Homo sapiens: one gene and its partners. The protein of the gene in region 2 interacts with the protein of the main gene of each other region in a pairwise test. Each region holds a gene or a part of one and is shown on either strand. Other genes may lie near its edges.

Region 1 (4,864 bases), on a different chromosome or scaffold from region 2:
TCCTTCTCTGCCAGCATGGAATGTTCCTCTTCACTATTCACAATGTCCAACATCACTCTTTGGCCGGGCGCAGTGGCTCACACCTGTAATCCCAACACTTTGGGAGGCTGAGGCGGGTGGATCACTTGAGGTCAGGAATTCCAGACCAGCCTGGCCAACAGGGCGAAACCCCGTCTCTACTAAAAAATAAAAATAAATAAAAAATAAAATTAGCTGGGCGTGGTGGCACATGTCTGTAGTCCCAGCTACTCTGGAGGCTAAGGTGGGAGAATTGCTTGAAGCTGGGAGACAGAGGTTTCAGTGAGCCGGGCAACAGAGCAAGACTGTCTCAAAAAAAAAAAAAAAAAAAATCACTCCTTTACCATCTCTCACTCCCTCCTCTCTGTCCCCATGTCCCTGGCCCCAGCTCAGGCCTGACCCTCTCCTGCCCAGCCTGCCCATGGCCTCCAGTCTGTCCCTGCCTTCAGTCCCCACTTGATCCTAGAGAGTCTTTCTACACCTGGAGATGGCCCTGCCTCCCCTGCCTCTTGCTCCAAGCCTCCTCCGGCTCTCGGACATCTTAAGAGTCCCAGCCCCTCAGACTGATTATTATGGTATTTAGTCATCTCCTCTATCATTCGCAACAAGGACCCATCAGCTCTTTCATACAAAAGCCATGCTGGAGACCCTGAGATGACTCAGACACAAGTGCCAGCCTAAGGGTGGTGAGGGAAACACACACACACACACACACACACACACACACACACACACACGAGCGTTTTCCTCCCATGTCCTGCCTGCCCAGGGTCCAGATAGGGAACAGAGGTGCAGCTGTTCAGAGGCAGGGCCCAGAGACAAGTGGTGACAGGCGGAAGAGCCTTCCTAGGCAGGGGAAGAGCTGGAGGAAAGGTTGGCGGGGGTGGGGCGGGAGGCGGTGGGCACCGGGGATGTGGCTGGGGACAGGGGACCAGGAAGGAGGGTGCTGAGGCTCTGAGGTGAGGCCACCAGAGCCAGACCACGCAGGGCCTTGTGGGACTCTGTCCTGGGGGAAATGAGGCAGCAGAGTGGGCTGTGAGCAGGGGAGGGGTGAGGGCAACCCCGTGGGAGAAGCAAGCAGTGTTAAATCAGGGTGATGCGGGCAGCTGTCATCGTTGAGGTGGCTCAGTTCACTGGGGGAGCCCAGACAGGGCCCCGATCCAGCCTGGAGGTCAGGAGGCTCCTCTCAGAGGACGTGACATCTGAGGTGGGCCTTGAAGGACAGAGGAAGGGACTGGCGGAGGGACAGGGACTTTGTCCAAGGCATTGGGGAGCCATGGGAGAGCTGAGAGCAGGAGAGGGCCAGGGCCGTGTGGGAATGGACTGGAGGGAGGCTGGAGGCTGCGGGAGAAGACAGAGCCCATCTGGGGCCTTGGGGACAGGGCAGAGTCAGGGCAGGAGAGACAGGACTTGGGGACAGGGCAGAGTCAGGGCAGGAGAGACAGGACTTGGGGACAGGGCAGAGTTGGGGCAGGAGAGGCAGGACTTGGGGACAGGGCAGAGTCGGGGCAGGAGAGGCAGGACTTGGGGACAGGGCAGAGTCAGGGCAGGAGAGACAGGACTTGGGGACAGGGCAGAATTGGGGCAGGAGAGGCAGGACTTGGGGGTGGATGAGTTGTGGGGTCTGAAGCGGGGAGAGTCAAAGGCTGAGGCAACTTGTGGCCCCTGGGACCCCCATTTTGTGGGGAGGCCTTTCCAGGGGTCCCCACCTCAGCTCTGGCCACCCCCACTACCAGGTTGGCCCCAGACTCCCGGCTGAACCCTCATCGCAGCCTCCTGGGCACCGGCAACTATGATGTCAATGTGATCATGGCCGCTCTGCAGGGGCTGGGCCTGGCCGCCGTGTGGTGGGACAGGAGGAGGTAGGCCCCAGAGCAGCACAGCATGTGCTGGGCCGGGCACAGAGGGCACCCTATAGTGTGAGCCTGTTGGGGGGCAGGGAGGGGAATGTGGCTGGGGGAGGTTGGCATGAATGTGGGAAGCCTGGCACTGATGGGTTGAAAGGGGGAGATCAGGTGGTCGATGGGCTGAGATGCTGGGTGGATGATGGTTACTGGGTGAATGCTGAGTAGGCCGTTGGATGTGTTGGGTCAGGGGGAGTGAAGTGATGGGTGTTCCTGGGCAATGGGCAGCAGACAGGAGGCTGGGGAGTTGGGTGGATGAATGGGAAGTTTTGATGGCCGGCTGGCCAGTGGCTGGGCATGTGGCTGGTGGATGAGGGGTAGACCAATGGCAGGGGGGTCAAGAGTGAGTGAGGATTGGGGGCATGGCGAGTCCACTGTTGGGTGAATGGCTGGCTGGGTGGTGGCCGGCTGTGTGGGTGGGTGGGTGGGTGGTGGGTGGTGAACAGTAGATGGCTAGTTGGATGGTGATGGTGGTTGGGTGGTTGACGGGGAGGTGGGGCGGGTGTATATGAGGGATGGAAGTGAATGCATAGATGGGAGGTGAGTGTGTGAATCGTCATTGGGAAGTTGGCTGGTGGCTGGGAGGCTCAGTGGGGTGGGCGGATCATGCATGGATCCTGGGTGGCTGTGTGAGGAGTTGGTAAGTTGGTGGGTGGGTGGCTGGACAGACAGGGTGATGGTGGTTGGTGAAGGGCCGATGTGAGTTGGGTGGACGGTGGGTGGGTGGGTGGACGGTGGGTGGGTGGGTGGGAGGTCTGGTTGGGTGGCCGCATGGGTGGGAGGTTTGAGTGGGCAGGTGAACGGATGAGTGTCGGGAACCAGGGTGGCTGATTAAGGAACACCTCTGGGTGGGCTCAGGAGGCCCTCACCACCACCAGCCTGGGCCCCACATGTTCAGCAACATTTCACCGGCGGGCGGAGCAGGCCCTGATGGCAGTGTCCCCTCCCTGCCCACACAGGCCCCTGTCCCAGCTGGCCCTGCCCCAGGTACTGGGGCTGATCCTGAACCTGCCCTCGCCCGTGTCGCTGGGGCTGCTGTCACTGCCGCTGCGCCGGCGGCACTGGGTGGCCCTGCGCCAGGTGGACGGTGTCTACTACAACCTGGACTCCAAGCTGCGGGCGCCCGAGGCCCTGGGGGATGAGGACGGAGTCAGGTGAGCCCCACAGAGGCGATTCCAAGACCAGGGGCCTGAAACCCCACTCCCCAGACGGAATGCCCAGGCTGGCCGAGCCTCAGTCTCCCCATTTCTCCCACCCAGGGCCTTCCTGGCGGCTGCGCTGGCCCAGGGCCTGTGCGAGGTGCTGCTGGTAGTGACCAAGGAGGTGGAGGAGAAGGGCAGCTGGCTGCGGACAGACTGACCATGGCTGACCATCGGCGCCCACAGCGCAGTCCCTGCGCATCCCCCTCCGGCTGCGCACACTGCATGCCTGGGAAAGGCCAGCACTTCATGGACCCTGGGGAGGCCCCGCCCCCTCCCCACACCCCTGCTCCCCACTGCCGCTGCTGCCTCAATAAATCTGCTGATTTGCTGCCTGCCTGGCCTGTGTCTGACGGCCCCACCCTTCTGGGGCCCCTTCCACTCAGTGACTCCCACTTACCTTACAGGCCAGACACCCTGGTGTGTGGGGCCGAGAGCCCAGGAGGCCTCCTGGTTCTCTGCCACCTCATGCCAGTTTCTCACTGCTGGGCCTCAGTTTCCTCATCAGTGACACAGCAGAAAAAAACACAAGTCCGTGCCCCCTGGGGCTCACGCTCCTCCGGTGCTGGAGAGAGACCAGTGGCAAACAAATGAGTTTGATCTCCTGGGTTCCACGGGGGTCATTGCTAAGGAGAAAGCAGGTGTTTACTTCTTTATTTGATTGATTGATTGAGACAGGGGTCTCACTCTGTCACCCAGGCTGGAGTGCAGTGGGTCAATCACAGCTCACTGTAGCCTTGAACTCCTGGGCTCAAGCGACCCTCCCACCTCAGCCTCCCAAGTAGCTGGGACCACGGGTGCATGCCACCATACCTGACTACTTTCTTTAAATTTTTTTGTAGAGATGGGATCTCGCTTTGTTGCCCAGGCTGGTCTTGAACTCCTGACCTCAAGCAATCTGCCTGCCTCTGCTTCCCAAAGTGCTGGGATTATAGGTGTGAGCCACCATGCCTGAGTTTACTTCTTGACTCTCGATTCTATTCCGTTGATTGGCAGGCGGGCAGAACAGTGGCCCCAAAGATGTCCACACCCTGGCCAGATGTGGTGCCTCATGCCTGTAATCACAGTGCTTTGGGAGGCTGAGGTCCACAAGTATGAGACCAGCCTGGGCAACATAGCAAGACCCTGTCTCTAAAAAAAAAAAAAATTAAAATAAGTGGCATGTGAGGCTGGTGGCTCACGCCTGTAATCTCAGCACTCTGGAAGGCCGAGGCGGGTAGATCACCCGAGGTCAAGAGTTCAAGACTGGCCAGGCGCGGTGGCTCATGGCTGTAATCCCAACACTTTGGGAGGCTGAGGCAGGCAGATCACGAGGTCAGGAGATCGAGACCATCCTGGCTAACACGGTGAAACCCCGTCTCTACTAAAAATACAAAAAAATTAGCCAGGCATGGTGGCGGGCACCTGTAGTCCCAGCTACTTGGGAGGCTGAGGCAGGAGAATGGCATGAATCCGGGAGGCAGAGCTTGCAGTGAGCCAACATTGTGCCACTGCACTCCAGCCTGGGCAACAGAGCGAGACTCTGTCTCAAAAAAAAAAAAAAAAAGAGTTCAAGACCAGCCTGGCCAACATGGTGAAACCCCATCTCCACTAAAAATACAAAAATTAGCTGGTTGTAGTGGCGGGTGCCTGTAATCCCAGCTACTCAGGAGGCTGAGGCAGGAGAATCGCTTGAACCCAGGAGATGGAGGTTTTGGTGAGCCAAGATCGCACCACTGCACTTCAGCCTCGGCAACAGAGGAA
Region 2 (5,236 bases):
TAATCTGTAAAGAAGAATTTTTAGAGCATCTATTTAGACAAACATTGGCATCATCTAATGCCTTGAACACAAAACAATTTGTAAAGGTTTTAACAGTTTAAATCTAAAAAATCACTGAAATGTCAGCAGTGATAATATAAACTGTAATAGCACATTTGGAATTTTAGAAACGATGTTCTTTCATATTAAGAAAATATAACATCTTATACCTGGTCAGAAAGTTATGACCCTAGAGCTTCTTTAGAGGTTATGCAGTGGATGCTTCTGTTTGTCTTCAAGAACCACCCTTAAATTGCCTGCTTTAGCAAAAATGGCCACTTTCAGCTACTTTTCATTCTAGTATTTTTATACAAATCAATTTTGTTTGTTCATTTTTTTCTCTCTTCAGTGTAACTTGATAATATCTGGCTTCCCTCTGTTTAATTCTTAGAGATCTAAAAATAACTATTTCTATTTTGAGTAATATTTTAGATAAAAACAAAAACAAGAATAAACTGAACCTAAGAAATAGGAGAATATGGAGAAAAAAGCAAAAGTAAAAAGTTGAGAAGTTAGGGGAAGGATGTCAGTGAAAGTTAGTTGACGGGAAACAGACTTGCCAAAATAGGGAGAAAAAAACTCTGATCCAGCCACTTTTTTCCTTTTTAACTTTTTGGCAATGCCCCATACATTTTCTTATTTTGCCCCTTCCTGAGGAGATAGAATTTCTTCTCAATTACCTGATAATATTTTACATATTTCAGAAAAAATTAAAGATTGGCTTTGTGAGTTTCCTAAGTGAGTATAGGAAACTCATTTCATCCATCAAACCTCATATCCCAGCACATAATAGATGCTTATTAAATGATTGTTGAATACATAGAGGAACATTTTGCCCTAGAAAGTGAAAAAAGGTTATTTATTTATTTTAGCAGGTATGCTTTTGGTTCAAGTTTCTACGGCTTTCTCTTAACTTCAGGGCATTCTATGATCAATTTTATAGTTTAAAATATTTGAAAAGTTAAGGTTCTCAACTATCATAATTGTTTTTTAATACTTTTTTAAAATTTGACTTTTTAATTCTTTTAATTCTTTTTTTTTTTTTAGACAGGGCCTCACTTTGTGCAGTGGCACGATCTTGGCTCACTGCAACCTCCACCTCCTGGGCTCAAGCAATCCTCCTGCCTCAGCCCACCAAGTATCTGGGACTACAGTCCTGCACCACCACGCCCAGCTAATTTTTGTATTTTTTTTGTACCAGCCATGTTGCCCAGGCTGGTGTTGAACTCCTGAGCTCAAGTAATCCACCTGCCTTGGCCTCTCAAAGTGTTGGGATTACAGGCATGAGCCACTGCACCCGGCTGTCTCTTAACTTTATACTAACTAACAGTATCCATCGACTGTACCATATAAATTGTTTCTCATAGATTTAATTGTGTGCTCAGATATATGCTTCTACTTAATATGAATTAGTACCAGCTAGTACATTTTTATCGTGTATAGAATAGTCCCAAGGTATTAGTTTGGTAAGAATCACTTGCACATAAGGGAATAGAATTTATAAAATAACTTTATTTAATCTTTAAAAATTTACTTATGAAAGAGGAAAATAACTTTTTATAAATTTTATGCAGTTATAAGAATGCAAATCCAAGAAACAGTAAGGTTATTAGATCCACAGTAATACAACCTAAACATAAGTAAAATTATTAGATTCATAACCAGAGGAATAAAGGATGTGGTATCTATTTATACACTCCATTTTAGAAGTTATTAGAATACCTTGTTTTATGAGGTTGATTTTCCACTGGAAATGCATCTAATGCGGTTTCCTTCTAAAGTGTTTTGGCTATTTCAGATTCACATGCATGGGAACAACTACAAACAAAGCTTGCTTCAGCATTTCCCAGACATTCTTCCTCTGGAATATGGTGGTGAAGAATTCTCCATGGAGGACATTTGTCAGGAATGGACAAATTTTATAATGAAGTCTGAAGATTATCTCAGCAGCATTTCTGAGAGCATTCAATGAGAAGTTATGTCATGTGAATGGCTTCCTAACTAAAAATACATGAGTGATATCCAACCTGGTTAAATGAATGAAAGAAAAGGAGCAAATCTTTTAAACTAATGCTTGCCTGAACTTTAAAAATGTAGAAATCTTCTGACATGAGCAACACAGGTGTTTGGAAAGATTTTTTACTTTTTAAATGCTTTTTTCTCTACTTTTGAAGTAATTAAATGTCAGTACATTTTAAGAGCATAAAAATCGGCGATTTTGTACTTGAAGAGAACATGAAAGTTATTGCTAAAGTAGCTGCTCATGTGCATCTTTGTATGTTTCTAGAAAGTTATATTTTAAACAAGTTCTCTGATTAAATTGGTTTAGAAAAAAATTTAGAAATATTCCGCTTAAAAATACTAGCACAAGTCAGCTAATGATAAAAAAATTAACACTTGTTTTAAGTGGATGTCAGATTAAATTATAATTCATTATAATTAAAATCTGAATAGAGTTTTATGGTTATTCCTGTGGACCAGCAAGACATTTCATCTCAGGGAAATTTTATTTTAGTATATTAACACGATAGAAACTTTTTTTTTTTTTTTCAGACAGAGTCTTGCTCTGTCGCCCAGGCTAGAGTGCAGTAGTGAGATCTCAGCTCACTGCAACCTCTGCTAGGATTACATGTGCACACCACCACTCCTGGCTAAGTTTTGTATTTTATATAGAGATGGGGTTTTGCCACGTTGGCCAAGCTGGTCTCAAACTCCTGAACTCAAGTAATTTGCCTGCTTCGGCCTCCCAGAGTCCTGGGATTACAGTCGTGAGCCATCGCGCCTGGCCGTGATAGAAACTTTCAGCTGAGGAGTCTATATGCCATACTACTCTATGTGGCATCTTTAGGTCTCTGTGAAATCATGTTGATGTAATTGATTAACAAAAATAATTTAGAAAATACGTCAGGCACAGTTGATGGCTTCTCAATATCTGCTTTGCATTTTTAAACAAATCAAGAATGTAATTTTAACTTTTGCTTATGGTCATTCTTATGACTACACGGAAAGGGATGGAATCATACTTACTTGTCTTATACATGGACTGTTTTTAGTTAACAATAACGTAACTACACAAAGGAAAGGAAATGTTTACATTTTAAAAAATTACTGTCAATTACATCTGGTATTTTTCAGATTATGCATAAAATAATATGAGTTTGACTATTGTATCAGAATATTTTAATCAAATCCTGCAATTTATATTAACTTAAAAAAACATCTGGTAAAGACTGGGTGTGGCAGCTCACACCTGTAATCCCAGCACTTTGGGAGGCCGAGGCTGGATGGATGATTGCTTGAGCGCAGGAGTTCTAGACCAGCCTGGGCAATACAGGGAGACCCTGTCTCTATTTCAAAAATAAATAAATAGGCCCCGGTGTGTGATGTTCCCCTTCCTGTGTCCATGTGTTCTCAAAAAAAATTAAAAAATAAAAATAAAAATAAATAAATAAATAACCGGTAAAGATGTACTGTTTCTACTGCAGTTTATAATATTTCATTTATTAAGAAAGATATCATCTCAGCTTTCAAATTCAACATAGCCCTCAATTTATGACATAAGTTTTATACTTAGTATTTTATAATTTCTTAATTTTGTTATAAACTTGAAAATGTAGAATATGGGGTCCAAAATCTGTTGAACATTTGTTCAGCTAGTTAGGTTTCAACATTAATCATATACATTAATAGTATCTTTATGTAAGGATATGTGAAGGGTGTTTTTCTTTATAAGAAAATTAGTTTAATCAGGTGAGCTGATACTTAGGATTATACATATATCTATGATAAAATTGAAAGTAATTGTGGTTGTTCTTTAGAGAACGTGTTTTGATTTTGACTTAGTATTGGGAAGCTAACAACATTATAATTTTTATTAAAAAACTGGACCCTGGGCCGGGCGCGGTGGCTCACGCCTGTAATCCCAGCACTTTGGGAGGCCGAGGCGGGCGGATCACGAGGTCAGGAGATCGAGACCATCCCGGCTAAAACGGTGAAACCCCGTCTCTACTAAAAATACAAAAAAATTAGCCGGGCGTAGTGGCGGGCGCCTGTAGTCCCAGCTACTTGGGAGGCTGAGGCAGGAGAATGGCGTGAACCCGGGAGGCGGAGCTTGCAGTGAGCCGAGATCCCGCCACTGCACTCCAGCCTGGGTGACAGAGCGAGACTCCGTCTCAAAAAAAAAAAAAAAAAAAAAAAAAAAAACTGGACCCTGCCTGTTTTCTAAAAAACACTTTAAAGTATTTTAAAATAAAAGCATACTATTTAAAATTGTATAATTAAAAATAATAAAAGAACAAAATCACTTAAAAAGAATAAACAGTGTCAATAACAAAAAACCTCTGGCTTACCCAACTTTTGTTTCTAGAAGATTTATATCAATCACCAGTTCCACTTCATTTATTTTTGTTTATTTCAAACACTTTCTTATGACTCTGTGGAGGAGTGATTAGTTTAGTACCCAAATAAAGGATAACATTTTAAAATGTCCTTTAAATTAGATTTTTTTGGTGATAGGTTCCATAGTAAATAGAATTAAGATAAGTCAGTTAATCTAGGCATATTTTATGATGGAACTTTGAAGTGTTTATAAATGAAACAATTCACTGAAGAACATTAAAAGAAAATTGAAATGAATGGTCAAATTAATAAAGTGTCAAAGCAAATAATTGTCTAATTGTCTATATTACTTTAGTGATTATGCCAGAAGTGCCTTTTAAAAGGTTAACTGTATTATGTGCTCATTGTGTTACTCAACTGCACGTAATTTATTTGTTTTAATATTGTTTGAAAGAAAATAAACATCTTTCACATAAACCATAGTGTACAAGTTATTTTTTAATTTTAAAATGTAAATATGAGGCATTCTTTTTCAAAAACTGCTTTTCCTTACAGAAAAAAAAATCTTAGCACATCTATTTGTCCATCACTCCAGTGTCAGTTTTTTCTTCATAAGTTTAATGACAGGCTGGTATTCCAGCTGCTTAGTTCAACACCGTATTTCTCTAATGTCTTTCGCTGTACATAAAGGGGACCACAAACTAATTACTAAGCCATGGATAGTCAAGAAGTTAAAAGTTTTAAGCAAAAAATGCCATAGTTTGCCACTTAATCAGATAATTTTATTTTCTTTAATAGACTTCATTTTTTAGAGCAGTTTTTGGTTCTCAGCAAAATTGAGCATGAAGTACAAGATAGA
Region 3 (9,170 bases), on a different chromosome or scaffold from region 2:
ACAGGCGTCAGCCACCGCACCTGGCCAAGATAAACTTATTTATTTATTAAAACAAATTTTTTTAGGGTCTCACTGTGTTGCCCAGGCTGGTCTTGGACTCCTGGACTCAAGTGATCCACCCGCCTTGGCCTCCCAAAGTGCTGGGATTACAGGCACGAGCCACCGCGCTGGGCCAAGATAAATTTCTGTTGGGCTAGTGATGGTGCTACACCTTCTAGAATGGTACATGCTCACTAACATAACCCCGACAAAGAAATACATTTATACCATATTCTAGGACACACACACAAACACACATACCATCACATTTACTGAAATATATTTTCCACTCTGGTTCATTTTTCTTCGAATGCTAGTCACAAAATTGACTTTCTGACCTTTTCGTGGGTTATAATCTATAGTTTAAAAAAGACTGCTTGGGTTCTGGGTTATTTTGTATTACCCAGAATTCTCACCTTTTGGTTTATGTGCAGATGTATTACTTTGACCTCATGCATTCAATCAATAATAATATAAAAAGGTAGGAGATATTTTTAAAAACAATGAGATCTTCTAAAAGGGGATGGAGGGTCTCAGAGCTGGGGGTCTGAGAGCCAGGTGCCCAGCCCCGTTCTGAAACTGCTAGGCATTATACAAATAGTACCAAGTTGGTTTAATAAGATTCTTAACATATAGTTGTGTAATGGAGACTAAGGGAGGGTTTGCTTTTTATATTTTGTTTAAACTTTAAAAAAACTGTGTATTACTTCTATAATTAAAAAATAAAGATACTTCAACCACTCCCCATCCCTGGTGGCTCTCCTCTACTTCAGAGGCCTACACTGCTATCTCCCTAAAAGCAGGCAATTTCTCCACCTGTGGGGAGCAGGTGGTGGGAAGGGATACTGAGGGACCTCAAGGGGCTTTTGCTTTCTTGTACGGTAAGAATATGAGAACCACATACTAACAGCTTCCTTGTGACCCCAAATAGCTCAGGGGTACGTGTAAAATACAAACATGCACTATTATTTTCAGTAATATTGGGTGACTAATTTTTTTCTTTTTTTTTTTGAGACAGGTTCTCACTCTGTCACCCAGGCTGGAGTACAGTGTTATGATCACAGCTCACTGTAGCCTTGGCCCTCCCTGGGTTCAAGCAATCCTCCCACCTCAGTTTCTCGAGTAGCTGGGACTACAGGCATGTGTCACCACACCTGGCTAAATACTTTTCAGTAGAGACAAGGTCTCACTATGTTGCCCAGGCTGGTCTTCAATTCCTAAGCTCAAGCAATCCTCCTGACTCAGCCTCTAAAGTGCTGGGATTACAGGTATGAGCTACCGCACTGGCCAGGGTGATTAATTTTGATACATAAATTAAGTACATGCATTTGTTTTTATGTTTGGATTAACAAGCCTGTAATTTGGTGGTCAGCTTAATATCTCCAAAAATATAACAGAACCAGAAAGTATCATTTTTACCACTCTGTGTCTCAGTTGCACATTCAGGCAAGAGGACACCTTTCTGAAATAGATGGACAAGTTCCTTTTACACCTTCCTGCTTGGCCTTTGTCTTTGATCAGTCTGGAATTATTTTCAGAGACCTAGGCGGCCCATGAGTCAAGCAGGGTGGGGTGGAGGGAGACAACTTACGAGAAGTTCAGCATGGGCTGGCCCACGTGGGAGATGTGAACCTCCTCCAGGTACTGGAAGGGCTGCAGTGTGGGGTAGGTCCCGGCTCCAGGTGGGTCCGACAGCCAGGTGCCCAGCATCCAGGACAGTGGCTCCACCACTGGGTTCATCTTGGGGGGCTCTGAGGACAAAAGAATGAGACTATCAGTGGCCTCCCTCCAACCATGCCTTGCTGAGCTTTAAGCAGAATGCACGTTCCATATCGACGCTTGCTTCTGGTGGCCACAGCTAATCCTGGGGGACCTGTCAAGAGCGGGAGAAAATGGTCAAGCAACTGTAAATGTCATAGTGAAAGATCCAGCTTCAGAAGCCTCTGCAGTTCCTGCAGAGAAAAGAGATCCAACAGGGGCCAGGCAGGGCGCAAGCAAAGAGGCCTACACTGCTATCTCCCTAAAAGCAGGCAATTTCTCCACCTGTGGGGTGCAGGTGGTGGGAAGGGATACTGAGGGACCTCAAGGGGCTTTTGCTTTCTTGTACAGTTAAGAATATGAGAACCACATACTAACAGCTTCCTTGTGACCCCAAATAGCTCAGGGGTCCTCCATGTCCTACAGCAAGGCTGAAAGCAGCTCACACGGGAGGCACGGTGCCCTGGCGTGAAGAGTGTGTGAAGGAGACAAAGAGCATCAGGGAGAAAATGAAAGGGGATGCAGGGTCTCGGAGCAGCCAGAGTGTGAGGGCCCAGGGGCAGGCGGGGTTTAAAAGGGAAGTAAGACCCCGCTTCCCTGAGGAGGGGCTGGGGCTTCACAGCAGCCTGTGTAGTGGCCAGGAGACCCCTTTAGAAGGTCTCCTGTGGGGTTCAGTCTCTCATCCCACTAAGTGTGAAGGATGACACCACAGGCCTGGAACTCAGAGGTGGGGGTGCAGTGACAGGACAGCAGGGAGGGGCCGCTGGGTTGGCTGTTCTGCTGGGCGAACTCAAAGGGACCCCTGCTTCCTGCCTCGCTCAGCAAGGACTGGGTGCTCCCGAGCGGCTTTTCAGGATTCACTCACATGACCCTCACCCTGGCTGGATGCACGGGCCCTGCTCTTACTCATTTTCTAAGGGAGACCTGTGCGGGGACCACAGGAAAGCCCCACTGCATGCTACCCATCAGGGGCGCTGGAAGAGAAGGACTGATCCCCAGAGGCAATCCCAAAGACCTGCTTCCCAGGCCTGCTTAACCCTCAAGTCTCAGTGCTTCAATTGACAGAACGGACACTGACACCCAGGAGCAGCAGCAGGGACAGAAGCAGCTCTGTGGCCGCACAAGCCTCATCTACGGAGCCCAAAGATGCCCAAGCACAGAGACCGGCCTGCACATCAGGACTGACCCCCGGCGTCTCCTCCAGGCCCGCGCAAGCAGAAGACGGACTGACGGGGACAGGATCAGGACTGACCCCCAGTGTCTCCTCCAGGCCCGCGCAAGCAGAAGACGGACTGACGGGGACAGGATCGGACTGATGCCCAGTGTCTCCTCCAGGCCCGCGCAAGCAGAAGACGGACTGATGGGGACAGGATTGGACTGACCCCCAGTGTCTCCTCCAGGCCCGCGCAAGCAGAAGACAGCTGACGGGGACAGGATCAGGACTGACCCCCGGCGTCTCCTCCAGGCCCGCAAAAGCAGAAGACAGACTGATGGGGACGGGATCAGGACTGACCCCCAGTGTCTCCTCCAGGCCCGCGCAAGCAGAAGACGGACTGACGGGGACAGGAGTTCTTGGAACCATCGCAGCTTCTGAAATTACACAACCTTTGGATTATAAATTCCAGGAAGTCTGGGAAAAGAAGATCGGGGGAAAGGAAAGCAAAGGCTCTGGGGGTGGAGGAGACCACGTCCAAGAACAGCTTGGAACCAAGGAGGGCCGCACATGTGGCCTGGCCCAGTGGCCGAGCCCTGGGGCCCAGAGTGAGAACCGAGGGTGGAGAGCAGGTAATGAGCACTCTGCCTGCTGGCTGCACAGGGCAAACATAGGTGACCTGAAGCAGGAGAGTGGGAGAGTCCGCTCCTTTTCCAGACTGGCCTGTGGTCTTTCAGTATTTCCTTTTTTGTTTTTCTTAAATGATGATTTAAAAATTTTTTATATCAGTATTTCCTCCTCAGACTCCCGGTGAAAAGTGGGAAGGTGAGGATGGGAATATTTGGACTTCAATAAAACTTTCCTAATTAGACAATAAGAGAATTTTTAAATCAAGATTTTCGTTGCAATCTTTCACGGAGATAAGGAATAGAAGCTTCTGAATCCAATGTGTGGCCTCTGGAACGAGGCTTGTGATCTATCATAGCTGATCAATTCTTTCATCATTCAACGTGCTGGACACTCTTCCAGGGAGAAGCTGACGGAACAGTCATACATCCCTACGGAGCATACATCCTAGCGAGGGCAGACAATACACAAGAAATGAGTGAATGATGCAGAACTGAATGTACATTAGGAGATGAGGCAGAAAGGGAGACAGGGCTGTTGGGGCACTGTGAAAACCTACCCAAAAGGGACAAGGACACCCTCCCTGAGAAGTGTGCACAGACCAGGCAGGGGATCAGGGTCCCTGCAGCTACCCTGGAGAAGAGCAGACCAGGTGGAAGTGCCAGAGACGGAGGTCCTGGGTACGTAGGCCTGGTCTTGCTGGAGAGGAACAGGAGGCCAGTGTGGCCAGGGGAAGGAGATCCTCACCCCTCGGAAGGGCCGTGACCTTGACTCTGAGCAGACAGAAGCCCTCGAGAAGGCTGAGTGGGAGGGACGAGGTCTCTGACTGCAACCACAGGAAGCCAGGGAGGGCAATGGCAAAAACCCTTGTGGCAGAGGAGGGTGGCCTGGGCCAGGTGGCCGTGGTGGAGGCAGTGGAAAGGACCTAGCTTCTGGATCTATCTTGAAGGCAGAGCCACCCGGATGTGCTGATGGTTTGGATGTGAAACACGTAAGAAAAGATGGTAACGGAGGTTTCTGGCCTGAGCAATTGAGAAGACAAGTTACCATTAATGGAGAAAAGGAAGAATGAGAAGAACCTTGGGAGGTGTGAAACAGCAAAACTCAGTCACCTGGGATAGCCCAAGTCCTAAGATGGGCTAAACAAACACCATAATTTCTCAGACAGCCAGCTATAGCCTTGGAGACCTTTCAGTTTGGTAGACTTTATCCAGCTCAGCACTGAAAAGAAAGAGGCTTTGGGCCGGGCGCAATGGCTCACTGAACCTGTAATCCCAGCACTTTGGGATGCCGAGACGGGCAGATCACCTCAGGTCAGGAGTTTGAGACCAGCGTGGCCAACGTGGTGAAACGCTGTCTCTATTAAAAATACAAAAATTAGCCGGGCGTGGTGGCACACGCCTGTAATCCCAGTTACTCGGGAGGCTGAGGTACAAGAATTGCTTGAACCCGGGAGGCGGAGGTTGCAGTGAGCCGAGGTCGTGTCACTGCTCTCCAGCCTGGGCGACAGAGACGTTTTCTCAAAAAAAAAAAAAGAAAGAAAGAGGCTTTGCAAACCTCAGGTTTTTGGGCCGGCTCTCTGGCCTGTGCGGAGCACACCCCACAGCGACTGCCACGGGGCTCTGGCTCTCCTGGGACCGGGTGGACCCACTTCCACTGGTGAGCGCAGCCTGCATGGGAGCTGAACCCTGTGGGAAGCGGCACCCCGGGCGCTGGGGAGCAGCGATCCAGAGTCCAGGTTCTGAGCTGCTGCACCGGGGCCGCGATCTCCACCCCTCACGCCCGAGTCCCCGGCACGGCCACCACCGGCCCCTGGGTCCCGAGGGCCCCGAGGAAGAGGCCAAGGGGCCTGGCGGCGCCCCCCAGGGTCCCAGTGGAACAGGGGCACCAGGGCCGCGGCGCCGGGCATGGCCTTCACACTCCCCACGAGGCAGGACAGCCCCGGGCTAGGGTGAGGGGCACGCGCCGCAAGTCCTGCCTCTGCTCCCGGGCGGCCCCCTCCAGCCTCCGCCGGCCCCGCCCCGGAAGCGCAGCCCCGCCTCAGGCGCCGCATCTCCGCCCTCTCTTGCGCCTGCGGGACCGGGAGGGCCGCGCTCGCCCCCCAGCGCCAGGGTCACGCCACCGCGCCCTGTTTGGGGAGCGGCAGAGGAGTCAGGGCGGAGGCTGGGCGGCGCTGGGCGGTGGGGCGCGCTCACTGGCTGCCACCTCACCTAGCAGGCGTCACAGGGCTCACTCAAGAGCTCCAGCAAGAGCAGAGGCGGGAGCCTCGCCAGCCCCTCCACAGACCACAGCGACCGCGCCCCTCGGCCCGGAGGCCCCGCCCTCCCCACTCCTGCTTCCCCAGCCACGGGGTCTTCTCCCGGCCCCTCATCTACTTGGCAGACGCCTCTCACCGGCAGCCTCTGCCTCCCCCTGGTCTTTCCCTCCCACCACCCACCGTGGAGTCCTCTCCGGGAGGCCCTGTCCTCCATCCAGCGCTCCTCAGAGGGGACCGGAGAGGAGGCGCTCCTTAAATGGGGAAGAAAGACGGACAGAGCCAGGGACAGCGAGAGACGGGACGGGGACAGAGACACAGAGACAGAGAGACAGGGCCAGAGAGACACGGGGATGGGGCCAGAGACGGGGCCAGAGACAGAGACACAGAAAGGGATCTTACTCTTTCTTCCCTTAAAACCAGCTTCTGGGGGTCTCCGAGGGGGACTCTCAGGTAAGTAACAATATTATCACCTTCCCTCCCAAGAATTAAAAAAAACAAAAATAACGAAAAAACCTTTTCCCTGAACTTGATTTTGAGGGAAAATAGGTCACAGATACAACCCACAGCCACCAAAACACACATACGGATGCTGTGAGAAGTGGTGGGTCAGTGCCTCGCTGGAGGACAGGAGGGGCCTCTGGGAGCTGGGGGGGTGGCCCCTGAGAAGCCTCAGGGTCTGGCCTGGCTCAGAGGCCTGGGGCGGAGTGGGGAGCCCTGGACTTGGGAAGCCTGGAGGCTCTTCTGGCCCCCGCTCTGCCACAGGGAGCTCCTGCAAACAGCAGGCCCAGGGCACCCCACGCGTCTGCCCAGGACACCCCAGGTGTTCGCCCAGGTGCTGAAGGCCCAGGCTGGCCTCCATGCAGGGTTACCCACCACCCGCCATAGAGAAGTAATGCGCCACTCCGAAAGAAAGGGGTGCTGCCGGCTGGACGCAGTGGCTCACGCCTATAATCCCAGCACTTTGGGAGGCCAAGGCGGGTGGATCATCTGAGGTCAGGAGTTCGAGACCAGCCTGGCCAACATGGTGAAATCCCATCTCTACTAAAAATATAAAAAACTAGCCGGGCGTGGTGGCGGGTGCCTGTAGTACCAGCTACTAGGGAGGCTGAGGCAGGAGAATGGCATGAACCCCGGAGGCACAGGTTGCAGTGAGCCGAGATTGTGCCACTGCACTCCAGCCTGGGTGACAGGGTGAGACTCTGTCTCCAAAAAAAAAAAAAAAAAAATTAAGAAAGAAAGGCATGCTGCTCCTGAAGACCTTCTGCTTCTCCAGCAATGGACTAATGGACTCTAAGACACTGCCTGAGTTCAGAGATGGACAAAAGGTGACAAGACACCAAGTGTGAACAAGAGCAGCAAAACATACAAACTGCAAAATGTTGATGGGGCAAAGGTGAAACTAAGAGAAAGGGTCTTGCTCAGTCACCCAGGCTGGAGTGCAGTGGCATGAATACGGTTCACTGCGGCCTAGACCACTGGGGCTCAAGTGATTCTCCCGCCTCAGCCTCCCGAGTAGTTGAATGAAGCTGCTCCATGAAGAAAGACCACTAACTAAACATGTAAGAACTCAGGAGAGAAACGGCAAGGAAAGAGGAGAAGGTGAAACATGACCTGGCAGAAGTCGAGAAAGTAAAAGAAAAAAAATCAAGCCACCACCCAAATGAAGTGGAGATTGGAAGCAGCACAGGGAGAAACAAACACCGGGAAACACAGCGGAACACAGAGGACAGAAATGAGTTAAAAAAAAAGACAAAAGATAGAGAAATGGAAACAAAGTTAGAAGGACGGGAACGCCTGGCACACTGCTGATGGGGACGTGAACTGGCACAGCCTAGTGAAGACCATCTGGCATGTGCCTGAGAGGTTAAGTGTGGAGCAGTGGCCCAGGACTGCCACTCCTGGAGACATGCACTCCCAGCAGAAATGACACACCTGTCCCCACAGGACGCTGCCCATGAATGTTTACAGCAGCACCATTCCCAACAGCCCCAAAGTGGAAACAACACAGATGTCCGTCAACCAATGAGTAAACAAACTGCAGTATATCCAGACAATGGAATGTTATTTGGCCATAAAAATGAAGCACTAATATAAGCTGCAATTCAAATGGCCCTTGACAACACACCATATGAAAGCAATCAGGCTCAAAAGAGCACATATTCTGCAATTCCATTTCTGTGAAAGGTGCAGAACACACACATCTACAGAGACAGAACGTGGGTCAGTGTTTCTCCACAGCTGCGTTCTGTGGCAGAAGACGCTAGAGTCACACGTAGAAGGCGCATGAGGAGGGAAGGTGAGTGGCAAGGATGCTACGGCTGGCCACAGCGATCCTTCCAGATTGCAGGCGCGTGAGCTGGCTCACTGACACGTGCAGTGAGTGCGAGCTACAAACTAGATTCCGAAAACTCAGTCCAAAAAGTCTTCAAATAATTCAATAATCTTATAGTATGGGTGGTTGCCTGTTGAAATAATTTTTAGATAATATCGGGTTAAATAAAATATATTATTAAAATCGATTTCACTTGTTTCTTTTTACCTTTTTAATGTAGCTATTAGAAAATATTAAACTACATAAGAGACTCACTCTCTAGACCTTTTCGACAGTGCAGGAATGGAGTTTTCAACCCTTGGCACCCAAGGAGCTTTGTTTCTATGTCTTCTCCCTGAGGACATTACCAGCAGCTGGATGTCATCAGGAGACAATAGGGAAATGATGCGGAAAGAAACCTCCGTAAACACTGAATGTACTAAGCCAAAAAAAAAAAAAAAGCGGTTATAGAAACAACAAAAAAAAACTGGTTATAGGTGGTAGATGCCTGGTCGTACAGGCATGACACTCAACTCATAGGACCCTTGAAGGGGCAGAACTCCCCACTGGTCTTGTCCCTGAGAGCTGACACCACAGAGGCTTACAAATGAAGTAGCAGTGGAAGATTTCATTTTAAAAACTGGGCCGGTTGCAGTGGCTCATATCTGTAATCCCAGCCCTTTGGGAGGCCGAGGAGGGTGGATTGCCTGAGCTCAGGAGTTTGAGACCAGCCCAGGCAACATAGCAAAACACTGTCTCTACCAGAACTACAAAAAATTGGCTGGGCGTGGTGGCACGTGCCTGTCGTCCCAGCTACTCAGGAGGCTGAGGTGGGAGGATCGCTTGGGCCTGGGAGGCAGAGATCGCAATGAGCCGAGAGCACATCACTACACTCCAACCTGGGTGACAGAGCGAGACCCTGTCTCAGAAACAAAACAAAAACAAAACAAAAAAAAGTAAAACACAACAAGCATAATATAAAATAAGATGACAGAACCAAGACTAAAAATGCTTGAACTTACATA
Region 4 (9,837 bases), on a different chromosome or scaffold from region 2:
TATAAACACCTTTAGAATTCATATGCGTATTATAATCTATAAAATAACATAGCTTAATGAAGTGTTTTTATTTCTTTCATCGAAGTACCTAAAATAATCTTAAAATTAACAGCTTCTTAAATTTGACAAATTTAGGAAAGGCGAAATAGTGGCCGTGGCAATGGCAGAAATGAAGGAAAAGTAATAGATTTTTATTTGGAAAAATAACATGATAGAATTTAATATATATATCAATGTACAAAATATGTTTTTTGGATTTTTTTGTTCATTTGAAGGATAAATAAAAAACAAAATCCAGGCACTTTTTTTTTTTAGTAAACTGTATCGAAACTTATCTACTTGGAAGGCAAACAATGTATGCCACAAAGTCATCCAGAACATAATGGAACTCAGAATGCAATAGGAAAAAATTTAATAATCAATTCAATTTCAATAAGGCTGTTTCTTGTTTGTATACTCTCCTCACTTCGAGTTTATATACTTTAATATTTATAGATAATTTTAACAAATACATTTATCTGGTGTCAAATTCTATAATGGATTACATGATTAGATGTAGCAAATTTGAAAAAGGGCATATTGTCAATTTATCAATCAACAATCTGAAAATGAGGAGGCAAGATAGAAAACTGTGTGTGTGTTAGGAAGTGTGGAGAAGTGGTGAATCACAAATACCAGAAGTCCTTTTTGATTCAAATGGAAACAGTCTCACATCCTTCAGTAAGCCCCGAGGGTGTCACTGTTGAAATTCAGAACTCAAACTGTTTGTCATGTTTGGTTGAGCCCAGGACATCAAGCAAAGGCTAAAGTATTTTCGGTGTATCCTATTTATGAAGTTGAGATTGTGTGTAATCCAGATAGAATTTTAGGTGTCTTGGTGCTTAAAGAGATCAAGGATCTCTTTAGGTACCATGGGGTACTTCATCCTTGACAGACTGGATTAAGCAAGATTTTCTGTTCCTCTTATTTGGTATTAACTGTCTATTTGTTCAGATATCCAATGTCTTAATCCTTTCAATACACAAATCTTTATTGAGCACCTACTTGCCTGGCACCATTTTAAACACTGGATATGTGGCAGTAAACAAAGGAGACAAAGTCTGTACCTTTATAGGCTTATATTTTAAACGGGGAAGACAGCCCAAATAAATAAGGAAAGTACATGGAAATTTTAAAAGTTGTACGTGCTATGTAGAACCATAAAGCAGGGTAGCAAGAAGGAAATGTCTGTGTTTATGAGTTGTAATTTTAAATAGATTTATGAGCAAAGATGTGAGGAAAGATTCATAGGAGATGAGAGTCAAATGCAACAGCAAGTATAAAAGTCCTGTCATAGGATCATGCCAGGTGGTTTGATGGACAGCAAGTGGTAAGTGAAGGGAGATGAATAGAGATGATGTCAGAGAACAACTGAAGGCAGAGATGGGGCACAAATCACATGAGCCATGGCAGGCCACTACAGTGAGGACTTTGGTTTTGAAGTATGGGATTTCGTAGTTACTATTGTAGTATAATCACCCAAAAGATGATGGTGGTAGGTAGTAGTGGAGGTGGTGAGAGTGATATCTTGGATATATTTTGCAGATAGACAGAATAGATCTTACACAAATATATACGGGGTATTAGAGAAAGAAATGACATTAATATGATACTAAAGTTTTCAGCCTGAGGAACAAGAATGAAGTTGCCATTTCAGAAGTGGCGAGGATTGGAAGAACAGGTTTAAGAAGGAAGAACAGTAGTTCGTTCATGGCCATTTTAAGCATGAGACACTTACCTATCAGACATCTTTGTAGAAGTTTCAATATAGCTCTCTCTTTATTCAACAATTGCTGGTGTTAGTAGAGGAATGATGAAGTTTTTAGAAGGTGCCCTAGATTCAGTGTTAATTAGGGGTAGGTGGCAAGAAGTTTCCCAGAGAAGATATCTATGCTGAGACCTAAACTATAAGCTCCATCAAGACAGAGCCAAAAAGTCTCTTTATTTTTATTTAAAAATCTGTTGGCAAGCCATGGTGGCTCATGCCTTACTCTTTAGCTGATGATTTTTTTTTTTTAATCATCAAGAGGAGTGTGAGGATAGGGCAATAGAAATTTTCCAGGTAGAGGGAACAACATACTTAAAGTTGGAGGACCAAAAGGATCATAGCATCTTCAGGAGACCATCAAGCACAGTGTACTAATTACCTTCCAAACTGATGCTTGTATAGTATTTTAGTGTTTTTAGAAGTACTTTCTCATAGACCCTCATCATAGTCTCTGAAAGGTAGAGAAATGTTTTTATTATCAATCAGTTGGTGTGAAAGTAGGCTTACGGGACTCAGTTCACAAATGTAGTTAATAATAACTAAGGTTTGAACTTGGGACTTATTTCGTCAAAATTTAAAATAACTTCTTATGTTTCGAATTATCTAAAATCTTGTCATGCATCCACTGTGGGGGGGTGGTGGTGAGGAAATATACATAGGGAATACATATATTTTGATATTGAAAAAACATGGAAACTGCAAAAGAATTTACAAGATAGAAATGAGTAAACTGGAAGATGATGATAATACAGTCATAGCTGTCATTTTCAATTAGGGTGCACCAGATGTGGTACTAGGATCTTTACATTTATTTACTAAATTTAATCTCACAGCAGTTGAAAAGGAGGCTCTGTTTTCACCTCAATTTGAGAGATGAAGAAATTGAGGCTGAGAGAGACTAAAGCAACACCTTGGAGGTCATTATACAGCTAGGAAGTTGCAGAGTCAAGAAATGAACCAAGAACCTCTGAAATGAGAGTTCAGGCTCCCAATAGCTTGGTGAGGAGCTACACCACCTGGGCCGTACTTTATTTTCCTCTTTATAACGTCAAAGGTAAAATTAACAACTCCAAGGAGGTTCTGATGAGTGACAAATTATTTTCTGAACTACAGTAACCTTTACATTTGTGTTCACCGGCCCTGAATTGGTTTTCACCCTAGCTTTGCACATTCTTTTATCACAGCTTAAGACAGCAGATGGCTCTCTTGCGTTTTCTTTCACTTACCTCCATCCGTAAACAACTAAACAGCGTTTTGGGGAGGTAAAATGAAAACGCAGGGATTAACCTAAAAGACCTTGATTATCCCAATGCTGCCCCCCTCTCCAAGATCCCTTAAAATAGGAAGCTACGTTGAAGAGAAATGACCGCTTGAGGCTCCTGAAATTCACAGCCAGAATAGATGCCCGGAGACTCCGGAGTCCGCTGTTCAGGCGCTGCGCCAGGGGTCGGGACGCTCGAGAAAGAAAGAGTATCTCTCGGTTATGGAAAAGCTGAAAGGCTTTGTGTTCCAAGGTGTTATTAACGTCGGTAGAAGCTGTGAAGATCAATTTCCTTCCCATCATGAGGGAAAAAAGTGAGAAACTGCTTTTAGGGGAGGAAAGTGTCAGAGACCCTCACAGCCAGCGCTTTTCTCCATCAGCGAACTTGCTTCTGCTGGGAGAGGTAGGGCTGGGGCGGGATCCCTGTCCGCGGTGCTGAATGTCAGGCTGGTCCGAGGCTGCTGAACAACGAAGGGAGGGCTCTGAGAGGGCCAAAAACTGACCTCCTGACCCCCAAGTCCAAGGATTTGGGGGAAAGACTGCAGCATAAGAAAATGCCTGCAAAAATAGAGGCACGGCTATAAGAACAAGAAGCTTAATGTCACTCTTTTCAAATTAATATTGTTGGCACATACATCAAAAGGCTTAAAGAACCTTTAAAAATAAACTAGGTGTGTTGGGGAAGTCATACTAGATTTAAGAGGTCACTATACTTAACATTTTACTTTTTTGAAACACTCACTGCAAGAAGCCTTTGATAATAAACCTGGATGCTTTAATCTTACAGTCATTTGCAAATTCAAATCTAGAACTTCTGAAATGTACAAATGGCGTTTCTTCAATAATAGAAACCAAGAGTAGTGACTCTTAATGTTCAGTAGGACTCATTTCAGTGAATTAAAACAACAGACACACTCAATAGCCATTTAGTTATTTTCATCTCTCTATAGACATCTTTCCCTTTTTAAGCAGGACTACAGCAACACAACATAAATGCACACTCACAAAAAAATGGAAGAAAAGAGACATATGAAACTGAAAATAGAGAGGGAAAGGCAGAGCAAAATAATTAGCATTCCCCTTTTTCTCACTTTTGCTATTTTATGAGTGACTAGGGATTGCAAGTTTCTAGCAAAACAACTCTAGCATATTCCTTTTAATAATTGTAGAATTTGTAGATGTAACATAGCAAAGTGTAGAAAATAAACTTCCAGAAGTACACTTTGTAATATATGACAAACACCGTCGTAAAGCCAATGATCCCTGCCTTAGATCTAAATCTACACACTCTCATCAGGTTGCATTTCCTTCCCAAAAGGAGACTTGTTGGTAAATGTGGAGTGAAGGTAACAAACAACAGCCCAGCAGTGGCTGCTTCCATGGAGAAGCTGTGGATAAGTTGCTTAGAGCAGAAGGTGCCCAGCCTCCCTGTAATCTGCTGCACTTCCCCCCAGTTGCCTGGTGGCGAGTACTCTACTGCCTATTCCTGAGACAAAGAGAAAGTGTGTTTTGGTTGAGAACTGCTCCCAGGGCTGCCTGCGTAGTGTGCTTGCCCTCTTTCCAGCTCTAAAGCAGTCACTGGAGAAGAAGGTTGTTGCAAGTCTCTTGATTACCAAGTGAGCCATCTCTCCCCCTTGCTTCACACTGAATTTCCAGAAGTCTAGTTCGAGCATTTCTTTCTCTTTAGCTGCCTGAGCTGATAGGCAAAGCAGTGTAAAGGGAAGAGGAGAAAAGTAAGAAGCCCGGAGCCAGAGCTGCACTTGGTTCTGCCACTCTGGTGTATCCTAGAAACCACGGAACTGTGTTCATCCAAGCATGAAGTGTTTCTCTCCCAACCTCCCCCCGGCTTTTTGTTTTTTTCGGGTGCCCTCCACTGCCGCCCTTTCTCTTGGACCTTCACATTTTCAGGTATCCAGGAGGGAACCGCTGTCGGGACACAGACAGAAAATCAAGGGGGAGGAGACGCCGGCTGTTGTATTTGAATTTCAGACACAGTTCAGATGGCTTTGCTCCCTGACAGAGCTTCTTTGCCCAGGGACACCAGAAGATGACAGCTCAAATTGGAGTGTCCTGTCTGGCTGCTTTTCACTGTCCCTGGAATAGTGTGACACCCTCCTCTGCCCCTTATATTTCTGCCCTGACTTCTTCAACATTCTCCTGGGCGTTTATCCTACCCAGCTGCTGTTCTGTAGCAGCTACTGCGGCTGTCATCTCCTCCTCCCAGGGCTGGGGAGCATATTTGGGAGTGGGGTCTTTCTATCTCGCTTAATCACACCTTCTCTCTTTCCATTCCCTCCTTTTTGCTCCGTGTAGCCTTTCAAAATGACAAACCTACCCTTCCTGCAGCAGAAGGGAGGGTCCTGCAAGTTTGGGTGGACTAGGTGAGGAGTGGAGGCTCCTCCCTCCAACCCGGGGTTGGGGGTGGCGACGGGGGGGCGTTGGTGCTGGAGGGATTAGCAGGGAGGGCGGAAACCACCTCGCCCTCCAACCGCTGCTGAGAGTTTCAGTGCACCGGTAACCACGTTAAGACCGAGAAGCCCCAACCAAGCCGCGGAAGGCTCGGGAACCAGCGAGTTGCATCTAAGAAAAAGCGCCCCGATGTTCCTTCAATTCCACCTGCTTTGGCTCGGCCTCTTAGCACCCCATCCCTGCAATCCATCTTAGCTTTCTTTCTTATTATTTTTAAATCATTATTACCTATACGTTTTGTTTCTTTCTGAAGAGGTACATCAGGAGGGGGACCACATAGGTGGAGGGGGTGTAGTGGGGTGGGAACGGAGCGTTTGATTAGAGATCTCAGGGGAGAAGATTGGTCTCTCCAGATGCTGATTTCCAAAGCACTTGACAATCACCGGCAGAAGCCGAGAGCGGGCGGCGCCGGCGGCGGCACCGGCCCGCGGGCAGCTGGAGCCCGGCGCTGAGTCCTGCCCAGCGCGACCCGGACCGACGGACGCGCAGAGACCCTGCCGGGACCCGCCCTCCAGCCGGCGCCCGGGGAGCCGCCGGCCGGCTCTACCTCCCGCCCGGGAGCCGGGCAGGGCGAGAAGGCAGCGCGAGTGGCGGTGGCGACCCCCGCCGGGGTTCCTGCGACGAGCGGTGACCAGCAGCGCCCGCAGCCGCGGTCCCGCTCTCCACTCGGACGTGGCCAAGCGGCGGCGGCCACGACGTCCGGCTTCCCGGGATCGTCCGGCTGCGCCCTGGGCGCATCTGCGCGCCTGGCCCCGCGCCCCGCGGAGAGGGCGATGGGTCCCGGTCAGGACTGAGCCCCCCTTCCCCTCTCCCCAGTCCCGCCTGGCACCCCCTCCTCTGCCCCGAGGGCGAGCCACGGTCTGCGCCGCCGCCTTCCCCTCCGGTGCCCCCGGCTCGCCGTCCTCCCGCGCCCTCCCTCCCCGGACCCGTTCCCGGGGCCACCATGGCCGCGGCCATCGCTAGCGGCTTGATCCGCCAGAAGCGGCAGGCGCGGGAGCAGCACTGGGACCGGCCGTCTGCCAGCAGGAGGCGGAGCAGCCCCAGCAAGAACCGCGGGCTCTGCAACGGCAACCTGGTGGATATCTTCTCCAAAGTGCGCATCTTCGGCCTCAAGAAGCGCAGGTTGCGGCGCCAAGGTCTGTGGGGGTCATGGTCGGGAGATGCGCCCCGGGTCGCCCCCTCCCCGCCTAAACGGAGCTTCTCCAGGCTCCTTCCCTCCCTCGGTTTTCCCGGCCCACCCCGGCCCCGGCCTCCCTTCTGAGCACTCTGGGTGCCGTCGCGGGGACCCTGGAGTCCGCTGTCGGGCAACCTGTAGCCGCCGAGAAGTGCAGCCGCCAGAGATGGCAAGTTGGCTGCTCCTCGCCGGCGGCTCCTGCCCTCCGCGTCCCTGCAGGCTGGGCTCTGGGAAACCTGTTCCCCCTGAGTCTCGGCTTCCCGGGAGGATAGGGACTGGCACTGGCTCTGGAACGCGGGGCACCCCTTCCTGCCACACCCGGGGTCGAGCCACCGCTCGCAGTCTGATCTGAGCTGGTGGGGGTTTCCATGGGGTGGGCCTGGCCTCACTTGGTCTCTGGGGTCTCCTAGAAACCTCCCGGGTTCCCAGACCTTGGACAAATGTGGATATCCTGGCGGTGCCCCCAGCGGGAGCTGCTGTAGAAGGAGTGGAGGGTGTGTGAACTATGGCCCAGTCCGCTGAGGTTCAGCAGAAGGCTGCTTAGCGCGCAGCCCTGGGCTCTGCAGCCCTTCAGTCAAATCCTGGGATGGGGACAGAGGCTCAGGGAGTCTAAAGAAAGAATCCGAATTGCGGGGAGCGGGGGGCAGAAGTAAAAATCCCTAATATGTGTCAGTTTTAATTGAAAAACTGGCGAATTGCCTGAGATACAAGCCGTTACTATATAAAGGTGACTAGAATAGTTACCTTACTACAGGTATTTCTTTGAGAAACTAGTACCTAGGATGACCTTTCACTGCCTTTGAAATGCCAGGGTCTGAGAAGGCATCCTATTCAGGAGCCAGGCGCTTTTGTCTCTCTCTCTGCCTGTCTCTGCATCCAGTTGCTAAGGCTGGTTGTTTTGCGAGCATGTGGTGTGTTCTGTGGGGGAAATGGGCATTGCTGGCTTTTCATAACCAAGTGGGGTTGGTAGGAAACATTGAAGAATCTATTTACGTTAATGGGAGTATATGTTTGCCCAGCACATTACATTGTCGGCTCCCAGCTGTATTTGTTTTAAATGCCCTGTTGTTCCAAAGACGGGGGATAGAAGCATAAGCTATACATGTGTTTCTCAAAGAGTGAGTGCGTGTCCTTACATTTGCAAATTGATGACCAAAAGTTTTGATGCTTTTTTTTTAAAGGCTAATGCTGAATATTTTAAAAGGACAATTTCTTGTTGTCACATTTAAGAAATTGGAGATTACTTGCTCTTACTATCAAGCTTCAAAGGCAAAGATAGGAAGAAAATCAGAGTGGAAGTTCTGTTAGAGAAATAAAATTATATAAGTAAAATAAGAACTTCTTGTTGGAGAATTTGGGATCAATCATATTTTCAGACCAGTGTAGGAGCCATTAAGAAAAAAATGGATTTTAATTTTCCACATTAGCCTAGAGCCTTATTCAGCCCACCTTTGTGTAATGAGACCAACTCGACTGCCTTAATCACCGTTGATAGACGGAGGATCAATCTATTATGACTTAAATTGTGCTTATCCTCTTATGTCATCAAACAGACTATCTTTTAGAATACAGTTTTCACCACATACAGCTCCAAATTGGCTGTCTACATAAAGTAAATTAACATACTATCTACTAAATAAGCTTATTTTAATATAAACAATGATTAAAACTTGTGTGTATTTCTTAAGAATATAGCCAGTAGATTATTTTATAAATATGAACAATAAATGTTTTGTGCCATATTGGGTGGCGAAGGAGGATTTGCTTTACACTTAATGAATTTTAAGTTGGGTGTTTACTTTTTTGTCAGTATAGAAAGCTGTCTGAGTTTTCTAATGGTCCGTTTCTCCATTTTCAACCCTGACTGCTCTGTTGGTATTCCTGATTTTGAAATGATAAGCAATCTTCAATGTTCTGTAAGAAAAATATATTTGAGGTCACTTTTCTACCTTACTTTGGACAGGAAAATAGAAGGGAAGATACGTTATAAGGAAATTGTATGAGAATTTTTTATTCTTCTTATATTTCTTATATAAAAGTATATATATTCTTCAGAGGAGAAAAATACAGATATATCTCTTGAGTATCAGAAAAGGATTAATTTATTAGTATCACTAATTTTAAGCAAAACAAATATTAAGACTTTATGTTATGTAAATTATATATCGACATATAATAGTATGCTTTTATATTATTATATATAACAATATAATTATTCATTTAATTAAGTCTTATTGTCGAACATATTTTCAAGCATATTTACCTTCTTATTACACACTCTTTACATAGGGAATTGCCCTCAGAAAATTTTAAAAAATCATATTTATTAAAGATACAACCTTTAAGTCTGATGGTTTTATATGTCTTTATAGCTGAAAATAATATAACAATTATTGAATCTTTACAATCTGTTAGGCTCTGTAGCAGGTATTATATATACATACAGCAGTGAATAGAAGAGTTGAAGTTCCTGCCATCATGGAGCTCACAAACATGGGGTAGAGAGTCATTGCCTATGGAAAGGAACAAATTAATAAGAAATAATAAAATTCAAAGTCCTATAAAGCATGAAGAGAGCTGGGATAAAGAATTATGGAGGAGAGAGGGGTGGGGAGAGGGATCTAATTAGATAAAGTAGTCAGGGTGGGCAACACTGGGATCCACAGGTTGAGAGATGACAGGTAAGAAGGATGCAGAGATTTTAAGAGCAGGTAGAAAAAGCAATGTGTGTGCAGAGACCTTGAGGTGGAAAAAATATTGTCCCATTGGGAGAAAAAAAAGAGGCATAGAAATTTTAAGCACATTGTCAAGTAGAATATAGTGTGATATGCTTGAAAACAGAATAAAGAATAGCTCCACATTTTGTGTTTTGGGGAAGGGTAATACACATTTTTGAAATGTAGGGTTTTAAAAAATCCTTTATTAAGTAGTAATTTATTTAATGTAAAGATTATTGAGTTGGAGCCCTACACCCACACTCTTTCCTATCTCCATCACCCCTACCCCTATAGAAGAGTGATGTTTATACCAGTTGACTTACTCTTGTGAAGGACAGAAATTTGCAAGATGGCTATTAATGGTGTGGTAGGCAGCATGACTGCAACCCACCTTTCCAGATTCAGCTCC

The links.
Region 1: the proteins of TTPA (region 2) and JOSD2 interact in binary tests that used the Homo sapiens proteins (3 or more experiments, as listed by UniProt).
Region 3: the proteins of TTPA (region 2) and THAP4 interact in binary tests that used the Homo sapiens proteins (3 or more experiments, as listed by UniProt).
Region 4: the proteins of TTPA (region 2) and FGF14 interact in binary tests that used the Homo sapiens proteins (3 or more experiments, as listed by UniProt).

Annotation. Positions count from the first base shown.
Region 1 is NC_000019.10:50,504,590-50,509,453, reverse strand, and holds the end of JOSD2 (josephin-2), read left to right. Parts: intron 1-1,754; coding exon 1,755-1,880; intron 1,881-2,881; coding exon 2,882-3,076; intron 3,077-3,181; coding exon 3,182-3,281; 3' UTR 3,282-3,456; downstream 3,457-4,864. UniProt on the Homo sapiens protein: Cleaves 'Lys-63'-linked poly-ubiquitin chains, and with lesser efficiency 'Lys-48'-linked poly-ubiquitin chains (in vitro). May act as a deubiquitinating enzyme.
Region 2 is NC_000008.11:63,058,027-63,063,262, reverse strand, and holds the end of TTPA (alpha-tocopherol transfer protein), read left to right. Parts: intron 1-1,086; coding exon of another isoform or gene 1,087-1,272; exon of another isoform or gene 1,273-1,837; coding exon 1,838-2,011; 3' UTR 2,012-3,775; downstream 3,776-5,236.
Region 3 is NC_000002.12:241,604,684-241,613,853, forward strand, and holds part of THAP4 (peroxynitrite isomerase THAP4), read right to left. Parts: intron 1,791-9,170; coding exon 1,631-1,790; intron 1-1,630. UniProt on the Homo sapiens protein: Heme-binding protein able to scavenge peroxynitrite and to protect free L-tyrosine against peroxynitrite-mediated nitration, by acting as a peroxynitrite isomerase that converts peroxynitrite to nitrate.
Region 4 is NC_000013.11:101,913,289-101,923,125, reverse strand, and holds the start of FGF14 (fibroblast growth factor 14), read left to right. Parts: upstream 1-6,180; 5' UTR 6,181-6,480; coding exon 6,481-6,673; intron 6,674-9,837. UniProt on the Homo sapiens protein: Probably involved in nervous system development and function.